Regions from separate parts of the Homo sapiens genome. Here region 2 is linked to region 1. The links come from fine-mapping of genetic effects on gene expression. Tissue or cell type: cerebellar hemisphere. Region 1 holds a variant in brackets; the other region holds the start of a gene. All regions are shown on one strand. Distances are between the middles of the regions.

Region 1 (8,264 bases):
TGGGAGTCAGGACGTTAACACTGTTTAGCCCATACCTACAGGAACATGGCCAAATCAGACCATCTGAAAGAATTTGGTCTGTCTGACCATCTGTATGTTGAAGCCATACAACCCAAAGGTCTTTAGGTAACTAAGCTTTGGACTGGGCATGCCATAAAGATAAAACTAGGTGACAACACGAGTTGAGCAGATACAGACCCCATCAGTGCCTATTCAAGGAAGGGACCAGTCATATGGCAATGATTAGATACACACCTTCCAACCAGCCTCAGGCTGTTCACAGGCTGGTTATATTTATTCAGACATTTTTCATGAAAATCAACTGTAGAGTTTCTAGAGTTCATTATTCTCACATATGTCAAACAGATCCATGGTTCCCAAAATTCTTCATAGTAACACACAAGACTATTTGTACAAACAGGAATTGCATTTGACAAATAATTACTGAATATCTATTCTACACTTCAAATATGATGGGGTTTCTTATAGACTCAATTGTGTCCTCCCCAAAATTCATGTGTTGAAGTCCTAACCCCAAGTACCTCAGAATGTTACAGTATATGGTCTTTAAAGAGGTAATTACATTAAAATAAGGTCATTAGGATAGACCCTAATCCAATATGATTGCTGTCCTTGTAAGAGGAAATTTGGGGCCAGGCAATGGTGGCTCACGCCTGTAACTGCAGCACTTTGGGAGGCTAAGGCGGGCGGATCATGAGGTCAGGAGTTCGAGACCAGCCTGGCCAACATGACGAAACCCCGTCTCTACTAAAAATGTAAAAATTAGCCAGGCGTGGTGGCGGGCACCTGTAATCCTAGCTACTTGGGAGGCTGAGGCAGAATTGCTTGAACCCGGGAGGCACAGGTTGCAGTGAGCTGAAATCATGCCACTTCATTCCAGCTTGGGCCAAAAAGTGAAATCCCGTCTCAACAACAACAACAAAAATGTAAATTTGGACACAAACACAAACAGAAGGAGGATGAAATCAAAGCTTTCTGGAGATGATCATACTATACATTTGATACAGACAAAAAGCACAGAAATCATTGATTTCAGCAGGCTCCCTTACTCTCTTCATAACTGCCGGTACTAGACCTCTTGAGAGTTTGAATTTCCTGGGAAAGCATTGAAAGCCGATCTGACTGTGTAGGGGTTTCATCATCTTCTGGGTCCGGTGATTCCTGCATCATTTCTTCAATTTCTTCAATAACCTTCGAAAACACACACACCACTGTTAATCAAATATACAAAAGGAAAATGATCTATCTGGAACACAGTGCTCACCTAAGGCACCCAGAGCAGAAATGCACTGAATTCTCCATTAACCAATGGTGTTCAGGTGTGGATGCTCCAAATAATCAAAATTTTTACTGTAGGAGTGAACATGGTTTATCAAGAAAAAATTACAATATACTAAACACAAACCTAAATAGAATTGGATTTACTACGTCCATCATGATTCAGAAGGCCCTAACATGTCTTGCAAAGTCTAGGTAATCGTGCTACAAACACATAATAATTTACTTCAGACACACCAGAGCTAGATCATACAGTAATCGTTAGAAGAAAGCAAATAACAGAAAATTTACCATAGACATACAAGTGCTCAATTTAAAGGTATCTCATCAAAAATTCTGACATAAAATTTATAAAATACAATAGCACAAAAAAAGTATATATAAATGGGAAATTACCTCTATGACAGCAAAATATTCTTTCAACAGCAGAAAAATAATTTTATATATTAATTCAACGAAAAAAAGGGATTTTTTAAATTACTCAAAAAGTAGAAGTCCAAAGAGAAAAATGCTGTGAAAAGCAGAAAAACTTCAGAAATACATTTGACTTTAAACAATGATCTACTGTCTAGTGCAGTGCTGCTCAAATCTTACAACAGTATCTTGCCCTTTTCCAGATTCTAAAAGTTGAGAAGGATATAGAACTCAGCGAAAATGTAAAGGAAACCCAGGAAAATTACTCAATAGTTAGAAAAAAGGACCTAAAGTTAAAAAAAAAAATTAAACACAATTAAATGAAGGAGTAAGACATCATGAGCATATTTCCATGCTTTATGAATTAACAAGCTTAACAGGTAAGATTTCCACCAAGGAAAAACAAAGGCAAATCTGAAGGAGATGGGATTATGTTAATTATAAGAAGAGTCTCCAAAACAGGAAATATAATAAGGTACAATGAGCCACTCAAGGATCCTACAGAATCTGTTATTCTAACTCTTAAAAAAAGGGAGAGTTTACGGTATTAGGCAGGTCAGTGAGGGGACAATGAATTCTCAAGGTCATGTCTATCCCTAGATTACCCTCTACCTCAAAACAACCTTCCAACCTACTATTACCTTGCTTTTTTAAGCACCACATTCTTCCCACGCCTAGAACAATTCAACCACAAATATGACTAAGGAGGATCCAAATAACACAATTTTAATGTAAATTTTTAATGTACTCCTCCCAAGCTTGCCATAATGTATCTCCTTACTGATCTCATCTTTCCAGCCTAAAAATAGAGTGTGGTAGAACTCACAGTCCGAGTAGCCATGGAACATTTTATTTCAGGAAGAAGTTCTGGCATCACATTTCAACAATACAACAGAGGTGGGAAGAGTATTCAGAAAATGAGAAAGCTGATTCGACTGGTTTTAAGTGAATACAGGGTTGACCTTATTAGCGCATTCCACGGGAATAATGCTCACTTCTTTCTGGGGCACACAATATGTTACTTTAATACATGCTAATGCTTTTTACCCAGGGTTTTGAAGATACTAAATAATTTCTACACAGATACTTTACAGTTTGTCCGTGTTTGGGTAAATCTAAAGAAACAAGGAAATTCACAATATTTTTCTGGTTTGGGGTTAAGCAACAACCTTTCCTTGGTACCTTGCTATAATCTTCAACAAGGCCTCTGTTGGAAACCTTCCCAACTAACATAATCCCTTCTGCTTCAGATCACAAATACTTATTTTTCTCTGTGGAAGAGTTAACTATTAAGCCTGTATAACCAGAAAAAAATAGGAAAGATAAGTAAACCAACAGCCATCATTTACTGTCATAACAAGAAGCCGTTTTTCAGCTCTAGAGTCTCCTTTCCTTGCGTTGCTGAGGATCTCCTCTATACCTGGTCTGCCGTGAAGAGGGGTTCATCATTAACACAGGAGACGATGATTGAGTGCATATCCAGCTGTTCTCTCAGCTCTTCATCATCTGA[T/C]GTATCAAAGAGCAAACTGTCACTTACCTAAAAACAAAAATACCCATCATTAAAAGCAGGACATCCTCATCAAAACAAAGTTAACAGCTCTGAGTAAAAGAGGCTGCAGAGAAAAGCAACTACTAAGAGCCTTCCCTCAAGAGGGAGAAATTATTACAATCACTCTGTACCAGGCAATGAGTATATATTCATCTTGAACAGAAATGAGAAGAATGTAGAATAAATATGAAATCACTGAGATGCTGCATAAGACTGCTATAAAAGCTGACAGATATGCAGAAAAAAATACGGTATTCATTAGCAAGTCATAGGGAATTACAGTGAATAGAAGGGAGAATATGGGCAGGGTTAGCAACACACACTAAGATTGGTAGACGTTAACATTCTAAAGAAAACATAAAAGTTAGTTACTTGCAAACTAACTTCTAATATCTGAGTAAAAGATGATCAACTCCCTGAAAGGCGGGATCTGTCCATGAGCGTCACACTTAGCCCTTCCAATTGCACATTCCTTCTTAACAAAAAATAATAACCCTAGGTTCCAAAAACATCTTTAAACCTAACTAAGCTGGTGATTCACCACTCACCTCCTCACCATCTTCCACCCTGCTCTGCGCTCCAGGAGGACGACCTTTATGGAAGACATCAAAGGATGCCCTTGCTGTCTGGCTTCCAGGTGGGTTAAACCCCATTGGCAGACACTGGCAGACTGGAAGGTGGGATGGTGAAGGCTGGGCATGTATTTTGCTGTCTTCCTCCCTGTCAGACTGTCATTTGTTGACTATGGCTCTTCACCAAAGCCATAGCTCTGATTAGCAGACTTCTCCCACAAGGCCAATCTCAACAGTTTATGGTAATTTCTCCCTCTCCTTACCTCTTCATGCCCAGGACTGCTAAAGTACCAGTTTCTGTTGCCAGCCCTGGGGGATTGCACCACATCAAGTTTGTTTCCCTTAACCCTGCCCACACCAATATAAACAGCCTTAGAGTTTAGTACCAGTACTGATTGTAAAAACTTTGCCTGAAAAAACTCAGCAGATTAAAATGAACAAGGGAACATCTGTCTATCATCTACCTATCTGTCATGACATGACTATTCAGGTGTTGAATGGAACTGAAACTAGAACTCTATTCCTCAGGAAGGATTAGCACACACTGAGTTTCCAAAGAATAAATGGGCAACAAGGATTACGTAAGAAGCCACCATGTCATTCTATTACATAGTGTAGAACTAACATGATAAAATTTTACCTGGCAAAATTATTTATCCATGCAGAGGATATATGTCTAAAGCTGAGGACACAATGGAATGGATGTAGGTTCCTACTGCTTCCCTAGTTCTTCATAACATGAGCATCTGAAGTTTGCAGGTGAACACAGCCTACAGAGTAAGAAACCTGCACGTGAGAAGGGCCAAGGGAAGAAGCACTGGCACACTGACTTTCCAACATTAGGCTGGGAGAAGGGCCCCATCAACACTGCACGGTCCACCTACAACCCTATAATGCAACTCCAGGCTCCTGCGCAGTGACGACAGCCCTTCTCATTTTATTTCTTACTGCACCATCAGCCTAGCAAAGGCCTGGCCATGACCTTCAACACAGCATCATGAACTAAGAACACTGTGTGGAAAAAAGGAGAATCTAAAAGCTTCCAGGGAGGGAAAAAAAAATCACATTAAAAGGATCAGGAATCAAAATGTCAAGTGAATTCTCAATAGCAACAATAGATGCTAGAAAATAATCGATGTAACTTCCATGTTTGGAGAAATTCCATCCTAGAATCCTATATCCAGCTAAAACAAGTAGGCAGGGGCTAGGATAAAGACATTTTCAGACATACAAGTTCTGAAAAAATTTACCTCTCATGTGCCCTTTCTCAAAAAGCTACCAGGAGGAAAATGAAAAAGAAAAAAGATATGTGGTCTAATAACAAGTGACAAAGAGAATTCTCGTAATGATAGTAAAGTGAAAATCCCAGAATGATGACTGTAAAGCTACACTAGAGAGTAACATTCAGATTAGAATTTTTATTGCAGAGAGCATGGAGAAGAGGGAGAGGTGGGTGGGGAGGGAGAGCAGAAGGACTAGATAGATTACCTAGTGCGGTCCATTTACTAAAATGAGTTCTACGGCTCTATTGAGGCTGAACTGGTCAGCTAATTATAAACTAAATAAACCACAAAAAGGCAGGTAGTATCCTAAGAAAAAACCTAAGTAGAAAAAGAGAAAATGTAAACATAATATATCATAATGGGTCAACTGTGCACATTTAAATAGTAAATATAAATGATGAAGATTAATTCAACCCCAGATGTTATGTAATTACATTGGGAAGATGGGGAAAGGGAAGTTTTTGGGAGGGTATAGTGTCAGGGATTGGCAAAGGACAGAAGAGAGCTAAACCTTCACCCTCTGGGTAGAAAATAAATAAAGTCTAAAATTGAGAAAATAATATCAAGTAAAATGGCATGAGCATGTTATCTGCTAAAAGAAATAGCTGATATCATTTAAAGTGGCCACCTCTGGTAAGGAGAAATCAAGTGGAGCAGAGACTGCCTTTTCATTTAAGTCCTATAGTTCTAATTTACTTTTTAAACTATGACAGCTGTTCCTTTAATAATTTAATTTTTTAAAGAAGGAGAAAGATCAAGAGACTAGGCTCTTGATGAGAGGGGATGTATGATTTCTATACTGTAGAAGATGAAAATGTGGCACACTGTGATCACAAAGGCATGTCGATACCATGGAGTAGACCTACCGATTAGTTTCATCGATCCTTACACTTCGAACACTTCACACCCCCTTCCCAATCACTCTTCCTATGTTGCAACTTGAGGACCATGATTTTGTTTTATTTTTCCCCTTCTGGCTTATAAATACTAAAAGTTTTAATTTTAAAATTAATCCGGGGTGGGCACAGTGGCTCATGCCTGTAATCCCAGCACTTTGGGAGGCTGAGGCGGGTGGATTGCTTGAGCTCAGGAGTTTGAGAACAGCCTGGGAAACATGGTGAAACCCCATTGCTACAAAAAATTAGCCAGGCATGATGGCACATGCCTGTAGTCCCAGCTATTCAGGAGGCTGAGGTGGGAGGATCACTTGAGCCCAGGAGGTGGAGGTTGCAGTGAGCCAAGATGGTGCCACTGCGCTCCAGCCTGGACAACAGAGCCAGACCATGTCTCAAAAAAAAAAAAAAAAATTACTCCTAAGGAAGCCCAGGTTGCCATGGCTCACACCTGTAATCCCAACACTTTGGGAGGCCAAGGTGGGAGGATCTCCTGAGGTCAGGACATCAAGACCACCCTGAGCAACACAGGAAGACCTCGTCTCTACAGAAATATATTTTCTTAAAATTAGCCAGGCATGGCGGTACTCGTGTGTAGTCTAGCTACTCAGGAAGCTGGAGCGGGAAGATCGCTTAAGCCCAGGAGTTGGAGGCTGCAGTAAGCTATGATGGCGCCACTGTACTCCAGCCTGGGCAACAGAGGGAGACACTCTCTCAATCTATCAATCAATCAAATTGCTTCTGTGGAAGACATTATCTTTTTCTTATTTCTACTCTTAAAGGTATAAAGATGCATACAAAAGTCCCTGTCCTGAAAGAAATGCACATGGAAGGAGAAATACAGCACAGAAGATGTTCTTAAGCTGAAATGAATGATAAGCATTCTATCATATAAGTATATTCAAGAATGGCACCAGATTTAGAATAGGGTTATGGCCAAAACACATGAGTAATAACAGTAAACTATTATAATAAATTTCCATGACAACAGAAATGATCCCAGATCATCTTTCCAGAGAGAGAGCCAAGTCCATTCCCCACAGAGATGGCATATGCTAAGAGCTGGAATATCTTTCAGGCTTTGCAAACTAGCCCTGGCTGTCATGGGTATCATTATTCACTCCTCCCTTCAGCATTAAATGTGCCTTCTCTTTGCCAAGCATTCCCATCACTCCTTCCAATGCCAGGGTTAGATACAGACCTGGTGGTACTGTTTCCCTGTATAAAACTGAAGATACATCAAATGGAAAAAATGTGCCCACGTAAGAATTTGAAAGATACCAGTTGCCTTACTCTAAAAAAGACATATCAAATTTAGAAGTGTGCCATCTTAATCTTCAATCAAAGAAAAATTTAAAACTGCAATCTAGCAAACTAGTTTTCCTGAATGTTTTTCTCTTTTTAATGCAAAAACCATTCTTCTTTTGTCAAAAAAAATTTCTATACACTTGGTTTTATAAGTAAAATAATCTAAAGAATGCTTTCAAAGGGTAAATTTTACATAGCTTAGTCACGGCACGAACAGAGCACCAGGTGGCAATGGTAAATACAGTCACTTTGCCAGATTAAAAAAAAAATGCTTAATTATATACCATGTAATAGAATGACGTGATGACTTCTTACATAGTCCTTATTGCCCATTTGTTTTTCAGAAACTCAGTGTGTGCTAATCCTCCCTGAGAAACAGAGTTCTGATTTCAATTCTATTCATCACCAGAATAGTCATGTCACAACAGAGAGATGATAGGTGAATGATCACGTGTTCACTTTCATCTGCTGAGTTTTTCCAGGTAAGGCTGTTTTTTTTTTTATTTTTTGAGACAGAGTCTCGCTCTGTCACCCAGGCTGGAGTGCAGTGGCGTGATCTCGGCGCACTGCAACCTCTGCCTCCCAGGTTCAAGCAATTCTCCTGCCTCAGCCTCCCAAGTATCTGGGATTACAGGCATGCGCCACCACGCCTGGCTAATTTTGTATTTTTAGTAGAGACGGGGTTTCACCGTGTTGGTAAGGCTGGTCTCAAACTCCTGACCTTAGGTGATCCATCCACCTCAGCCTCCCAAAGTGCTGGGATTACAGGCATGAGCCACCGCGCCCAGCCAGGTAAGGCTTTTTAATGTCAGTACTAGCATTAAACTCTACGTCATTACTAATCACTGCCTTGGCCATATCATTACCGTGGCATTGAAAATAACATTCAAAAGGCAGCAAAAGGGAGCAACCTCCCAAGATGCAATCTAAGAACAATACAAGACAT
Region 2 (8,000 bases), 230 kb before region 1:
CAATAGAGGGCAGACGATCTCTTCTTCTAGACCTCCATCAGAAATACTTCGTAATTCCTGGTTCGTTGCAGACCTGTTCCCCAACCCCTCCCCCACCCCCCCACCACCCCCACCCCAAACTTCGATGACTCCCTCCTGCCCATACCATCCCTTTCAAGTACTGATTTTGAGGTATTTACTAAAACCAAGAGAGAAGGGCTGCAGACAATAATATTCAAATATCATTTTGACTGTAATTCTTCACTCTCCCTTTTTCAACTCATTCATGCATGCATTTTTATAAATCCTGCCCTCTCCAATAAGCTGACAAGCTAATTGGGTTCAGAGTTATTTAAATAACTATAATGTAACATGATAAATGCTACAAGCAGAGGTACTTACAAATGCTGTAGAACAGATAAAGAAGCTCAAGAAGGCTTCTCAGAAAGGGAGGCCTTTCATGTGTGGCTCTAATTCTTAACATTCGTTCATGACTTTCAGGGTCCATTCAATTTCAGGGTAATTCTTCCTAGTCCACTTTCACCCGTGACACCTGATTGTCATCATGTTGGGCTCACCCAAACTCTTTCTGTAACCATAGTCTGGTCTTTGAAGATAAGAAAATACTTTTGTATTCGAGCCTCAGTATCATTGCCTCAGCTTCTCACTACCTCATTATCATCCCTCCTGGATCCCAGAGAAGAAAGAGCTGTTTCATAACTGAGCTCCTGATTCACACACTGGTTTCAGAAAAGCTGCCAGGACCTTGCAGGTTTCTCATTCGCCACTAGTCACTGGCTTCAAGGAATCCTATTTTCTCTATTGCTTCTATGACTATTAATTTTATGCCAAAGGGCATGTGTAATGTAACTTGATTTTTTTTTTCTTTTTGAGCTGATACAATCATCTTCATCTTAAAGAATCTCCCTAGTCCTTTCTAAACCTGACTTGAATTCCTGTGAGAAGTCAACCTTTCTCATGTTGTATCTGTCCATCTACCTTCCAGGTGGTTCTACTTCTGAAGTCCCAGGAACAATGAATAGTCATCTCCAAATTATCCTTTGCCTGTGCTCATCTGTAGCTTTCCTTAATCCTTAATATATCCCCTTAAAAATAAATAGAAGCTAAACTTTGACAATGCTTATTACCTCCTTCTTTCCTAACCACAGTAGCTTTCTCACTTCTGCCTTTTTCTCATCACCTGACCTTGGCTTTTCCTGCAGGTCCTACAATGTTATCTGCTACATTTTAATGTCTTTATACTTGCATTTGAACAGAAATACAGATAACCTCCTCTGCAAGAGTGGGAGGGACCTTTTAACACAGAGCAATGATGACAGTTTGTTGGCAAATCCCACACTGAAGTGCTGGTGCCTTGTTCGGTGACAAGAAAGAACAATGTTTAACAATGTGTGTTTTATTTTTCTTCAGTTTTTTTGTTTGTTTGTTTTTGAGACAGAGTCTTGCTCTGTCGCCCAGGCTGGAGTGCAATGACGCAATCTCGGCTCACTGCAACCTTCACCTCCTGGGTTCAAGTGATTCTCCTGCCTCAGCCTCCTGAGTAGCTGGGATTACAGGCATGCGCTACCACACCCGGCTAATTTTTGTATTTTTGATAGAGACAGGGTTTCACCATGTTTCACCATGTTGGCCAGGCTGGTCTCGAATTCCTTACCTCAAGTGATCTGCCCACCTTGGCCTCCCAAAGTGCTGGGATTATAGGCATGAGCCACCACGCCCAGTCTCTTCGGTTTTTCTAATAGAAAACCTAGCATATTTTAAACGATTTTGCCACTTAACACTTATTATGGACCCACAGGGTATGAGGGCCTTTGGAGATCATCTAATCGGACTTCCCACCCAACTACAGGAATCATTTCATTGCAACAACTCTTTAAACCCGTCTAGAAAATGCAATGCTCTCTCCCCTTTTCCACGGTTGAACATCTTCCTCATGGCCCTATAATAATCAATGATAATTAATGAGCCTCTTCCTCTCCTTGGACAAAGAAATATGATAGGAGAAATGTTTAGTTTGCTGATGCCCATCATGGGGGAATAGTCCACTGGTAACTCTGGCTTTTGGGTTCAGGATTAGACAGAGTGGTTAAACTAAAATATTTATCGTAAGTATGAATTTGTTCCACAAACATAACATTTCAAAGGTAGCTTTGTTTCCTCTTTCCTTGCACTGCCAGCTATTAACTTTCGGTTCATTAGTCACGATTTTCAGAATCCACTTGGCTGCCACCTTCCTGCAGCCAGACCATCTTGGATCAGAGGGTGGGCCAGCCATTCCCACGTCACACCTGCCACGGGATCGATTTTTTCCCCCATTGACCACAGTCACTTTTTGTCAATTAATTAATGTTATTCACCTGGTACCCATCTTGTGAATGGTAGGTCACTACGGAGCGGATTACTACTTCATATCCCATCAATGACAGAGCCATCATTACGAAAACCTTTTCTGACAACCACTGAAGAGAAACCATCTCCACACCGTGCATTTTGCATCACTTCCGTTGCTTCTTTACCTGATTTATCACAAAGACTATGTACCACACATCTTCTTTATTAATGCATTGACAATCAGTGAAGACAATGAAAACCCACCACTTTTGTCCGTGAACTGAGAAAGAAAATGGCAATGTCATATGGCATTAATGATGCATGAGATCTATGGGTGTAGTGTCACGTCTAGGCGTGTAGTAATCCAGTCTTCGGCCTTACTCCAGGGAGAAAGATTCAGCTTTGTTACTTTCCAGTCACTCTCTCCCGTAACACAGCACCTTGGCACAGAAAGCAGAGCGACAAAACCCAGAATGAGGACAGTTAAAATTCAACTCAAGCTACAGCCATCCCAACGGTCCTCCCCAGCTCCCGCGGAATATTTACCAAGACCGTTTAAAGCACTTAATTAATTCACTTCAGCTTCGCTGGAGAGGTCTCAGGGTTCCCGAGACTCCATTACATAATATCTTTCACAAAGTCTATTCCCAGCTCGAATGGAAGATGGATTCTCATCCAGTGTGCGGAGGTTCCATGCCTTTGCTTCCCTTTCCCGGAGTTCGATCCGGCGATACCCTCCCGAGGCTGCAGCCATCGCCCCGGCCCCGAGCTTCTGGGGTACCCGCCACTCTTCGAACTCCAATCTGGCCCCGAAGGTGCAGCCGCCTCGCCCTCCTGGCTCCCAGGCCGGCCGCTGCGGCCACGGTGCCAGCGAGCGCCCGGGACACCGCGACTCTCGCTGCTCGCTGGGTGCGCCCCAAGCCCATCCGCAGCGCACCCGCGGCGCCGGGGCCAGAGCCGCAGCTCGGTGGCACGGCCGGCTCGGTGCGCCGGGCTCGGGGAGGAGGAGATCGGGAAGAGGTGGAGGCGTGTGAGGGAGGGAGGAAGGGCCCGGCCGCCCGAGAGGGGGAGGGGGAGGCGGAGGGGGCCGGCCGGGCCGGGGAGGGGGGGCAGCCAATGAGCGGCGCGCGGCGCGTGGGGGTGGGGGGAAGGTCTGGGGGAGGAGGTAGGATGGGGGAGGGCGCAGCCCGAGCGGCTGAGGCTCCAGCCATAAACAAGCGCCCGGAGGAGCGGCGCAGGAGTGAGGCGAGCGGGGCGCGCGGAGCGGACGCCGCGGATCTTGTGCTGCGCCACCGCGCCCACTCGGCAGCTCGGGAGGCGGGGACCGGCCCGGAGGCTGCGCCGCTGCGGGGCCGGCCGACTCGGAGGAGGAGAGGGAGGAGGCGCCGCCGGCCCGGGCTGGAGCCGAGCGCAGCAGCCACCGCCGCCGCCGCGCCAGAAGTTTGGGTTGAACCGGAGCTGCCGGGAGGAAACTTTTTTCTTTTTTCCCCCTCCCTCCCGGGAGGAGGAGGAGGAGGAGGAGGGGAAGCTGCCGCCGGCGCCAAGGCTCGTGGGCTCGGGGTCGGCGCGGCCCGCAGAAGGGGCGGGGGCCTCGCCCCGCGAGGGGAGGCGCGCCCCGGGGGCCCCGAGAGGGGCGGTGAGGACCGCGGGCTGCTGGTGCGGCGGCGGCGGCGCGTGTGCCCCGCGCAGGGGAGGGCGCCCGCCCCGCTCCCGGCCCGGCTGCGAGGAGGAGGCGGCGGCGGCGCAGGAGGATGTACTTGGTGGCGGGGGACAGGGGGTTGGCCGGCTGCGGGCACCTCCTGGTCTCGCTGCTGGGGCTGCTGCTGCTGCTGGCGCGCTCCGGCACCCGGGCGCTGGTCTGCCTGCCCTGTGACGAGTCCAAGTGCGAGGAGCCCAGGAACTGCCCGGGGAGCATCGTGCAGGGCGTCTGCGGCTGCTGCTACACGTGCGCCAGCCAGAGGAACGAGAGCTGCGGCGGCACCTTCGGGATTTACGGAACCTGCGACCGGGGGCTGCGTTGTGTCATCCGCCCCCCGCTCAATGGCGACTCCCTCACCGAGTACGAAGCGGGCGTTTGCGAAGGTACGGCCGCCCGCTGCGGGCCCCCTCCCACCTGGCCTGCGCCGCCCCCTCGGCGCTGGTTGTGCCGAACAAAGTTTGGGCGAGACTTTCTGGAGGAAAGAGGGCTCTGCGGGAAGAGGGGCGGCCGCCGCCCCCAGGAGAGTGCCCCCGCGGCCCTGCGTTCCCTCTCCTTGTTCCCCCCGACGCTTAGGCAGTCGCGGGCGAGGTTGGGTATGGTGGGTGGGGGCGAGCGAGTGGAGGATCGCCCCTGTCCCCGCGCAGACGCGCACACGTGTGGCCGTTCCTGCTGGGACTGGGTGGCCCGGCCTTGCTCCCCGAGGTGGGGGCGCCGCGGGCGGGGGGCACTGCAGATTCTGCCGCGCGCGAGCCCCTCGGGGAGCCCGGCCCTACCGCCCTCCCCGCACTGGCGCAGTGTGGCACCGTGAGCCGCACGCCGGCCGCGAAAGTCCTTTTTCTGTTGGCGGAGGAGACGTGTCTCCAGCTCGCACTCCCCGAGTGACTCTTATTATTTTTTCCTTGAGCTCTTCCTTCACCCCTTCCTCCTCCTCCGCAGATAAATCAGTTTCAGCCGCGGAATATGTCAGCCCAGGGGAAGTTACACACGGTGGTTACTCATTTATTTGCCCATTGTAAACGGTCAAAGGCTTTCTCTCCTGAAAGGAAAGGGGGGTGGGGGTTGCACCTGGGAGTAAAAAGTTGTTGCTATTAGTGGCTGCTTTTTAATATCAGATACCCGCGTGTTTCCTGTCGTGTTGCCGGTTCCTCCTTTTTGTTTGTTTGACAGCGGGGATTGTTCTGCTGGCTTCTCCAGCACGCATTGTGCTCCGCGGTGTCGAGATTGACGGTGGGAGAAACAGATTAGATTAGTGGAGTCTTTCTCGTTGGGGAGCCAATGTTAGTGCGTGTTGGCTTTAATCCCTGCCCGCTTGCGTCGGCCTTCAGGGTGCCTGGTCTGGTTTGGGGTCTAGAGCGAGGCAGTGAGTTATTTTGATGTGGCTAACGGGGGCACGGTTCGGTAAGCATCAGTTAAAAGTGGGATCCCTGCTCTGGCTGACGTTGGGCTGATGATGCTGTTCCGGGGGCATCCTGGCGAGTGAGCAGAGCGCACGCAGCAGCCTCGTTTCTGGGGAGGCGGCGAGGAGGGACAGGCGCCCTCTGCCCGGCGTGCCTTCCTCACTACTCACAGCCAGCACCGTCCAGGGAACGGTTTATTCCGAAGCATCTTTGTGTGTGTTTGTTTAGTATGCTGGGATACTGAAAAAGGAGGTGACAGCCTTAAGGATAACAATGGACCTATTAAAAGGCTTCAGTGCTGTGATTCTCTCTAAATACGCACAGACACACACATAGGTACTTATTTATACCTGAATAGTTTGGGGTTTGGACAGTTCAGGAAAATAGGGGAGGGTTTTCTGGTTTGGAAGCTAGTGGGCAGTGATGAGTGAAGGGAACTCTTCTCAGAGGGGAGGGACTTGCTCTTGCTTTGCTGCACACGTAAGACATTGGGTTAGAAGAGATCATTTGCCTGAAGTACAAAAAAGCCTCTCACCTGGTATTGTCCCCTTTTATAACTTGTTTTTATGCCTTACCTCAAGAAAAATGGCCATGAGATTAACTTCTGATACCATTGTATGTGTTTTGACTTTGGGAATTCTGAATGACCTAGACTAAAAGATGCATCTTTGAACCCTGCCGCTTCAAGTGTATAACTTAATCCGGCCTCTCGTAAATCTGAAAAGAACAGGCGACATGAAACACAGTTAAATGCAGTGGAAACTGCTGTGTTCCAAGAAGGACTTTTGCAGGTTCTGAAGATTCTAACCCTTGTTTTGTTTCTTCTTAGTCTGTTTCTGGTGAAGGAAGTGCTCAGGGAACATTTACAGTAATCGAGTGTTGTGGCAGCAATATCCCATGTCACAGTATAGAGTTATTTTGGCAGTTTCGTGAGCCTTTCATTCCTCTGAAATGATGTGATCCCTCATAGCTTCCTTTTTTCTGGCAACACCCTGTGTGCTTGGTATTCGCTTTGAAATGCTTGGAAGGGTTTGTTGACATGATTATATCTCAATTAGTTTCTCTAGAAACACTTTTTATTTTACAGGCCTGTTTTCAACTATCAATATTGTGTGTCCAGGGCACTTCCTTTAAAAAAAAAAATACTGAAAACAGCAGTCAACTTGCATTCTAAATCTGTGAAACCAAAGTAAGGACAGTGTTACCTGGCATGATATAATGGTTGGATTTAGACAGATATTTTCAATCGTGTGTTTACAATTTCAGTGTTTTCACTTAACGACAAGATTTATGGAAAGCATGGGATAAGTGATACCCCAACCGCCCCCCGCCTGCCATTTTTAAAAAAAGAATTAGAGGAGCCTTCAGATGTCAGCAGTTACCTAGAAGGTATTGATTATCTCTTGTTTTTCTGTGAGTTTACAAGAAATTTCGGAATGGCCAGTGTTTCCCTCAGTTTCCATTTTTATTCAGAAATTCACGTGGTGAAGCATGGTTATCATAACTAACATGAATAGGAATCAATATATTTTATTCATGTTGAAGTCTCTTTTGCTGCAATTTTTGCACTAAAATGACCCCTACTGGTTGTATCTGTTAATGAAAACTCTTGAAAACTTATTTAATTGGCTACGTTGTAAAAACATATTGCATGTTATAGAAATATTATCATGACTAATCTCCCTGCTTTCGATGACATAATTTAAATACAAATTATATTCTCTGTTTGCCAACTTGCAGTAATTTTTAGCAGTGTTTACTCTCATACTGGCTTTGTAGGGGAAAAAAATTACGTTTTTAACTGCAGTTCACAAAATGAGTTAGATAAATCATGGGCAGAAATGGGCCCCTTTCAGCTTGTGGCTCACAGCCTTAGGTTTTTAAGGCATGCTGGTCTAGTTGGCTCTCAGTAAAAGTACATTGAACAAACGGAAGAACAATCCTATCCATAGAAAGAATGCTGAAGGAAAAAAAATATTTTCTGAATGATTAAATAATGTGATGAGTTGTGTCCTGTGCACCATGTGAGATGTGCACTTGGATTTCTTTTCCGCATTGTTTAGATTGTTATTAAATAAATTCTAATTGAATTATTCCTTTTGTGGTGGGGGCTGGGGGTGGTAAGTGCATTTGAAAAAATGAGCATGGAGCCTGATACCTAAAAGTTTTTCCTACTTTCTGTCAGTCTAGAAAGTGCTTTTTGGAACTTAGGAGAGTGCAGGTCTTTTTCCTCTTTCCATTCGTCTGCTAAGACCTCCTGTTGCTCTTTGCAGCATCCTAACTGGCCTGTTTTCTTGGCCAGGCTGCCTGCCTCCAGGAAAATCACCTAGAAGCCAGAGAAACAAGTGTGGATCCTGAACCCCTGAGAAAGAAATCTGGATGGAAGACATCTTTGGAGGATCGAAGGCAGAGTTTAGAAAAATTAATGAAGTGAGATTTTCTAGAAAGAAGATTTTGATTGGACAGTGAGAATTATGTTTTGAGCTAAGGGGTTGAGAGCCATTTCTTCTCCCATGTGTCATAGCGCTTTATGCTTCTATAAGGAGTGAGGCAAGGTGAGAGAGCATGACCAG

Direction of the effects. Positions count from the first base shown, and alleles are read on the strand shown. Sizes are in standard deviations (SD) of each study's normalised expression.
For the expression in cerebellar hemisphere of the gene that starts at base 3,568 in region 2, T is the low allele of the variant in region 1 and C is the other (moderate effect, 0.53 SD a copy in GTEx).

The links. PIP is the estimated chance that this variant, and not a neighbour inherited with it, causes the effect.
Region 2: CRIM1 starts here. The variant in region 1 is fine-mapped to the expression of CRIM1 in cerebellar hemisphere (GTEx, PIP above 0.99).

Annotation. Positions count from the first base shown.
Region 1 is chr2:36,580,220-36,588,483 of GRCh38, forward strand. FEZ2 (fasciculation and elongation protein zeta 2) reads right to left here. Exons shown (of 8, transcript NM_005102.3): 3 at 3,134-3,250; 4 at 1,071-1,212. Among named protein-coding and RNA genes, the nearest start is that of FEZ2, 14 kb to the right of the region's middle. The variant T/C (reference allele first, on the strand shown) is at 3,224.
Region 2 is chr2:36,352,211-36,360,210 of GRCh38, forward strand. It overlaps CRIM1 (cysteine rich transmembrane BMP regulator 1), which reads left to right and starts at 3,568. Exons shown (of 17, transcript NM_016441.3): 1 at 3,568-4,413. The coding sequence starts at 4,083. CRIM1-DT (CRIM1 divergent transcript) reads right to left here and starts at 3,360. Exons shown (of 2, transcript NR_037631.1): 1 at 2,878-3,360; 2 at 2,539-2,771.